Homo sapiens: one gene and its partner. The protein of the gene in region 2 interacts with the protein of the main gene of each other region in a biochemical or structural test. Each region holds a gene or a part of one and is shown on either strand. Other genes may lie near its edges.

The links.
Region 1: the proteins of PPP1R10 (region 2) and WDR82 form a complex in vitro, tested with the Homo sapiens proteins (one study listed by BioGRID).

Annotation. Positions count from the first base shown.
Region 1 is NC_000003.12:52,268,582-52,272,399, forward strand, and holds part of WDR82 (WD repeat-containing protein 82), read right to left. Parts: intron 2,229-3,818; coding exon 2,131-2,228; intron 1-2,130. UniProt on the Homo sapiens protein: Regulatory component of the SET1/COMPASS complex implicated in the tethering of this complex to transcriptional start sites of active genes.
Region 2 is NC_000006.12:30,607,244-30,611,061, reverse strand, and holds part of PPP1R10 (serine/threonine-protein phosphatase 1 regulatory subunit 10), read left to right. Parts: intron 1-1,106; 5' UTR 1,107-1,117; coding exon 1,118-1,224; intron 1,225-1,898; coding exon 1,899-1,985; intron 1,986-2,147; coding exon 2,148-2,283; intron 2,284-3,170; coding exon 3,171-3,222; intron 3,223-3,818.

The DNA of each region.
Region 1 (3,818 bases), on a different chromosome or scaffold from region 2:
TCCTCAGGATCCTAAGGTTTTACATTCTTTTCCAAAATCATTAACTACACTGCTTCCTTAGAAAACCACTTCTGAAATACAGGCATGAAAAGTAGAAATGACATACTTAACTAAAAATCAATACAGGCAGAAGAGTCTCATTAAAAAAAAAAAAAAATGGAAAAAAGGACTTCCGCCCATTCTGCTCTGAGATAGGCACAGCCAAAATAGCAGTATAAGCTATCCTTGTGGAATGACATTAGAAAAATCTTTTTTGTTTTTTTGAGATGGAGCCTCGCTCTGTCACCCAGGTTGGAGTGCAGTGGTGTGATCACCCTAGACCTCCAGGGCTCAAGCAATCCTCCCACCTCAGCCTTACAAGTGGCTGGGACTACAGGCGCGTCCCATCACACCTGGCTAATTTTTGTATTTTTTGTAGAGACGGGGTTTTCCCAAGTTGCCCAGGCTAATCTCGAACTTCTGTGCTCAAGTGATCCACTCTCCTAGGCCTCCCTAAGTGCTGGGATTACAGGCATGAGCCACTATGTAGCCACCGGCCTAAAAAAAACCTTACTGCAAAATGTGAGATGATCATCAATAATCCACTGAAATAAGTTTAAAAACAGAATCCTGGCCGGGCGTGGTGGTTCACACCTGTAATCCCAGCACTTTGGGAGGATGAGGCAGGCAGATCACTTGAGGTCAGGAGTTCGAGACCAGCCTGACTAACATGGTGAAGTCCCAACTCTACTAAAAATACAAAAATTAGCCGGGCGTGTTGGTGGGCACCTGTAATACCAGCTACTTGGGAGGCTGAGGCAAGAGCATCGCTTGAACCCAGGAGGCTGAGATTGCAGTGAGCCGAGATTGCACCATTGCACTCCAGCCTGGGCAACAAGAGCAGGACTCTGTCTCAAAAGAATAAAGAATAGGCCGGGCACGGTGGCTTACAAGGTCAGGAGATCAAGACCCATCCTGGCTAACATGGTGAAACCCTGTCTCTACTAAAAATACAAAAAATTAGCCAGGCATGGTGGCATGCACCTGTAGTCCCAGCTACCTGGGAGGCTGAGGCAGGAGAATTACTTGAACCCGGGAGGCGGAGGTTGCAGCGAGCTGAGATCGCGCCACTGCACTCCAGCCTAGGCAACAGAGTGAGACTCTGTCTCAAAAAATAAAAACAGACAAACAAAAGAAAATAAACAAAATTAAAAAATTAAAGAATTCTAACATGAAAATAAGTGTTACAGTTCAGTTACCAAGACAATCTGTTAACTTAGGATTTATCTCGAGACATGCAGGCAAAAACAGAGATTGTTTATTATAGAAAGAAACTCACAAGTTCAATTTCTAAAAGTAACTCTACTCTTTAGATCAAAAAACGTTCCTGGAATCAGAAGTGACTAAGGTTGGGAAAACACCAAAACTGTTCTAACTTCCCTTAAACTATCATAGTTCAAGCATTTGTGAAACTTTTCTCAAATCTCTATCATTTTAAAAGAAAAAGTCCTGTTGTTTATCACTTGCTGTGTATCAAGTGTTCTTTCCTTTTATTTGTTCTAAAAGTGTTCTTTTTGGAGATGGAGTCTCACTCTGTCGCCCAGGCTGGAGTGCAATGGCGTGATCTTGGCTCACCACAACCTCTGCCTCCCGGGTTCAAGAGATTCTCCTGCCTCAGCCTCCTGTGTAGCTGGGATTATAGGCGTGCACCACTGTGCCCAGCTAACTTCTGTATTTTTAGTAGAGACAAGGTTTCACCATATCGGCCAGGCTGGTCTTGAACTCCTGACCTCAGTGATCCGCCCACCTCAGCCTCCCAAAGGTTGGGATTATAGGCGCGAGCCCCTACGCCCGGCTTTAAAAGCGTTCTTTTAAGTGTCAGGAAGTACAAATCATAAACACAATTAGTTGTTTCCTTTTTCCACTCCCCACTCTGAATTGAAGACTTTTCATACTCAGTCCCAAGTCCTTCAAAAGTGCCAATGGCTTGCTTCCAGCATTCCTTCAGTCAAAACAATGCAATTAACATTACTAACATTATATGAAAATACTTAAACTAAAGTAGTCACAAAGCAGAAGTAGTCACAAAGATTCCATGAACTATTTAACAAAGGAAACCATGACCTTAACTTCCTAAAAAGGCTTGCTTACCGTCTATTTTGTTAGAGCTGTAAACAACTGTGTTTGCTGCATGAGTGTATCTGATGAGGTCCACACCATATTTCTTACTGTACAGGGTTCTCTTTGGTCTGATAAGAAAATAGAGACAGAAAATCATGAACATTCTCCATCATCAAAATCTGGGATCTCCACATAAAGAGAAGCACTTGAATGATGTGGCAAAGGTGAGGATTTTTGGTAAGTTCTAACACTGGAAAGAAACAACTTCTTCCAAAAGGGAAAAAACAACGCTCAAGCAACAGCCATCTGAAGAAGCTTTCCACCTTAGAACACCTAGTGGCAAGGTTAGGTGGGAAGTAAAAGTAAATCTGGGGATTCAATTCAGTCTTTACTACAATGTTCAAAAGCTTTGAGAAAAAATACAATCATGTGCCATGTGATGACATTTTTATCAACAACAGACAGCACATAGGGTAATGGTCTCATAAGATTATAATAGAGCTGCCCTCTACAACCGATGTTTCATTTTTTAAATCCCTTAAACTGTTTTACGGCACCTTTTCTATGTTTAGATACACAAACACTTAACGCTATATTATAATTGCCTACAGTATTCAGTACTGTAAAATGCTGTACAGGTTTGTAGCCTAGGAGCAATGGGCCATACCAAACAGCCTAGGTGTGTGCAGATTATACCGTCAGGTTTGTGTAAGTACACTCTATGATGCTGCTGCAACAAAAACTCACGTGATGATCCCCATCTAAGTGATGCATGGCTGTACATCTACTTGGGAAGAAAGGCACACAAAACAAGTCTTAACTTACAACAAAGAGGGATATGAGAATATGTCAAACCCAAGAGGCCAAACTTTTCTTCTCAAGACATCCATTTAGAAAGAAGCTCTGTGTTTTTTTTTTTCAAGACGGCAGTGATTCCTCAAAACTGAAACCAGATGCAAAACTGCTTGCCTTTGCTAATGTAACCTGCTCTTGCAGAAGACATCCATCCTTCCTATCCTACAGGTCAAAAGCGCTTGCTGAGCCTTTTAGAAGGCAAGCCTAACTTTCTCTAGCAAAACCAGTTAAATAGTTCCTTTGCTTTTACTTTAAAGCAAAATCACACATTTCTGGCCACAAGGTGGTGGCTCACATCAGTCATCACAGCACTTTGGGAGGCCGAGCCAGGCAAATCACCTGTAGTCAGAAGTTCGAGAGCAGCCCAACATGGTGAAACCCCGTCTCTACTAAAAATACAAAAATTAGCCGGGTGTGGTGGCACACACTTGTAATTCCAGCTACTCAAGAGGCTGAGGCAGGAGAATTCCTTGAACCCAGGAGGCAGAGGTTGCAGTAAGCCAAGATCGTGCCACTGCAATACAGCCTCTGCGACAGAGTGAGACTCCACCTCAATAACAGACAAAAAATCACACATTTCCAAGCTAGAGGTTATCAATCTCCATTTGTTGAAGTTCCTTAAATGTCTCCCTTTACAGAACCTTGAAGAGCAAGGCTAAAACTGGTCTCAACAGAACCTTTAACCAAAAACTCTAACACATACTGGTTAAGTTAGAAAAATTTTAGGCTGGGCGTGGTGGCTCACGCCTGTAATCTCAGCACTTTGGGAGGCCGAGGAGGGTGGATTGCCTGAGGTCAGGAGTTTGAGACCAGCCTGGCCAACATGGCGAAACGCTATCTCTACTAAAGATACAAAAATTAGC
Region 2 (3,818 bases):
GCTGGGATTACAGGCATGAGCCACTGCACCCAGCCTCTTTTTTGGGTCTTAGAAGCAAGTATTTAGAGGCAGTGTAGATAAAAATCCCAATCAGAACCATATTGATCCTAAATTACCTTTCTGGAACTTCAGTTCTGGCTTGTCCCTTCCATAAAAGGAGCTTAGCTTTTAACTAATTCCCTTCCCAACCTGGTCTAAAACAGCTGCTTAAAAGGGAATTTTTCTAGCATTTGGCTTTATCTGTTCCCTTTTTAGGTTCCATGGTTTTCAGTTTTAGGCTTTCCTAGGGGATCTTGTACAGCGTGATTTTTGAGGAGAGGACCAGATTCGCATCTTTGCTTTTGAAAGCACAAACCACTAGCTTCCTTTTAACTTAGAGACAGTAAAAACTTGTGTAGTGTTTGGCTAATGAGTGACAGTCTATTCAAGGTCTAGGAGGACCTGCTTGATTTCCATGCATCCATTTGTCTCAATCTCTGGCACCTACTCCCAGATCTCCTTAGGGAGGGATTCTGTTTTCAAGTTTTGTTTTGTTCTCCATCATCTACCACTTCAGCTGATACATATCTTGCCATGTGTAGTGATTATGACTCTTAATGGGCTAAGATAAAAAGGACTCAAGTCTTATAAGACATTTAGCTCAAACACCCAAGATTGGCCCAATTTCTATCAAGCTATAGGCTGTTTTTCAAGCCAAATTTATCAGCAACTAGGGAAGACAGGACTTAACGATAGGTGTAAATGCCCTGGAGAGTTGAACATCTTGTTATGGGAACTGATCTTAGCTTTAATACGATCTAGTGAAGTTCAGCCATCCTAGGAAGGATGCTGCTGGGAGGGAGGGACAGGTGTGCTGCCCTACTCCTCCAATCGAATTGCTTTCCTGTTCAGTCACATATGCTCCCCATGCTTAACTTGCCAGGGCTATTTTCTCAGTAGTGGCAAGTGGTCTGTGTCGATTTTTCATATCTAAAAAATAGCATAGTTGAATAATTAGTCATTATACTTTGTCAAATATAGAGATGTGGTTTATTAGAGGGCCTACTCGGGTAGTCCTTGCCACCCATTTATTCTGTGGGTTTGTTTGTTTTGTCCTCTTACCATAGAAACCACCATCATGGGTTCGGGTCCCATAGACCCCAAAGAACTTCTCAAGGGCCTGGACAGCTTCCTTAACCGAGATGGGGAAGTCAAAAGTGTGGATGGGATTTCCAAGATCTTCAGGTGAGTCTTTACCCCTTTTTGTATTCACTGTGAGTAGAGAATATTGTGTGTTAAAACATGGCTGCAGTTGAGGCACACTGGAATGATCCTGGAAAGGAAAGGGAAAGATAGTCAGTGCAATAGGATTAAAATGTAACAATTTTAGGATAAGGGATAGGAAAAGATGATCACTTGTTTCTGACCATAATGGAAACTGGAGATTTGGACGTCCACGGTCCCAAGGGAGTCATGCTTTGGAATGAGAGCAGGGTAGCCTGGTAACAGAATTCTAGATTGTTTTGGTTCGTGTTCCACCTACCCATAATGTTATTTTCCTTCAGGGATTCTCAGGTTTTTCAGGGGAGAGTAAATAACTAAGCCAGTCTTGAACAGACTATTAGGGACAGTTGTTGAGGGATAGCCTTATCACCTGGAGGCAGAATGGAATTCATCCTGTGTGTTACGGAGGCAGCGATGCTCTCCTCCCCAGGTCAGAGACTGCGGTGTCTCTGTTCTCCCATAAGTTTCCATGTCACACTGGATCCATCCCATCTTCCTAGAGGTATATGTGACTCCCCTTCTCTGGAGCAAAGTCCCAAGTCATTAGGAATCTCTAGGCAGTTCACAGAGAGGCGCTTTTGCTAAGAGAAGAGATACTGGCTGCTTCATTTCTAACCCTAACTCATCTTCTGCAGTTTGATGAAGGAAGCACGAAAGATGGTGAGTCGATGCACTTACTTGAACATTCTCCTGCAGACCCGTTCACCAGAAATATTGGTCAAGTAAGTGGGGATCTGGATGGTTGGAATGGGAAGGTGTAGCGAAAAGATGGGGCGGTGAGGCATGGGGTTCCTCGGTCATTGATGGGAGACTGGGATTGTAGGATGTGGTACTGTCAAAACCTAGAAAGGGCATTACTGATAGACTCTCCTGCCTGCCTGCAGATTTATTGACGTTGGCGGCTACAAACTTCTTAACAATTGGCTGACGTATTCAAAGACAACCAACAACATTCCCCTCCTCCAGCAAATTCTACTGACCCTGCAGCATCTACCGCTCACTGTAGACCATCTCAAGCAGGTACCTTTAGTCTTTAAACCCTGATTCTTCCTTTTTTGGTTTAGTCTAATGGATGAAAAACTCAAACTGACTGATGTGGCTGTAATCTTGGGCCTGTGAGGTAGAACAGCAGAAAAAAAATAGGAATTTAGAAGAAGAAGACTTGGTTTGAATTTATCTCCTTTAATAGGTGTGTGGCGGCTGGGCACGGTGGCTCACGCCTGTGATCCCAGCACTTTGAGAGGCTGAGGCGGGCGGATCATGAGGTCAGGAGACTGAGACCATCCTGGCTGACGTGGTGAAACCCCGTCTCCACTAAAAATACAAAAAATTAGCCAGGCATGGTGGCATGCGCCTGTAGTCCCAGCTAATCAGGAGGCTGAGGCTGGAGAATCGCTTGAACCCAGGAGGTGGAGGTTATTGTGAGCCGAGATCGCACCACTGCACTCCAGCCTGGGCGACAGAGTGAGACTTCGTCTCAAAAAAAAAAAAAAAAAAGGAATGTGTCAGCCAGGTGTGGTGGCTCACACCTGTAATCCCAACACTTTGGGATGCTGAGGTGGGTGGATTGCTTGAGCCCAGTAGTTCAAGACCAGCGTGGGCAAAAATGATAAAACTCTGTCTCTACAAAAAATACAAAAAATTTACCCAGATGTGGTGGTGCATGCCTGTAGTCTCAGTTATTTAGGAGGCTCAGGTGGGAGAATCATTTGAGCCTGGGAGGTCGAGGCTGCAGTGAGCCAAGACTGCGCCACTGCACTCTAGCCTGGGCAACAGAGTGAGACTCCGTCTCAAAAAATAAAAAAAAAAAAAAAAGCAGGGAGGACTGTAACTTTTGTCGTTTTTAGCTCTAAGTGGAATTATTTGCCTCCTGGCATTTACCTTTCTGCTGCTCCCATCTCTCATAGAACAACACAGCTAAACTGGTGAAGCAGCTGAGCAAGTCAAGTGAGGATGAAGGTAGGGTGCCACTTCTGCTCTCTCATGGGCTTTTCTCTATTACTTCCACTTAATTACCTTAATATCTTTTCCCATCCTTGGATTGTCCCTTCACTTTTCTCTTTCTACCTCACCTTGCTTTTTTTCCTTCTTTTAAAGAGAAAGTTCCTCTAACCTGTACCCTCTTTCCTGTTCTCAATTCCAAAGTTGTTCATTTCTCTGTTGCTGAATATAAGGTGCCATACTTTAACTGGAAGCTGATTCCTAAAATTGCTTGTTATAAAACACATACACTTAAAATTTGCTGTGGGAAATAGTATCATCCTAGCGTGTCTCATCTGTGAAACTCCTATTACTAAATGATAAATTATGAAATGAGTTTATAAGTGGAAATGTTGGCCAGAAGAGAGGTGCCATAGATCAGAGATGTTATTTGCCAAGTACAAAAGGAAAGAGTTACAAAGTATTTTTTCATATATTTAGAAACAAATTTTATTCTTGTTTTCACATCTATAAAGGAAAATAAAAAGTCTTCAGATTGTTGTAACAATTAGGTGTGTTATACATAAAGCAACTAACGTAGCTTTTTAAAAAAATGTCAGTTTTTGAGGAACTGG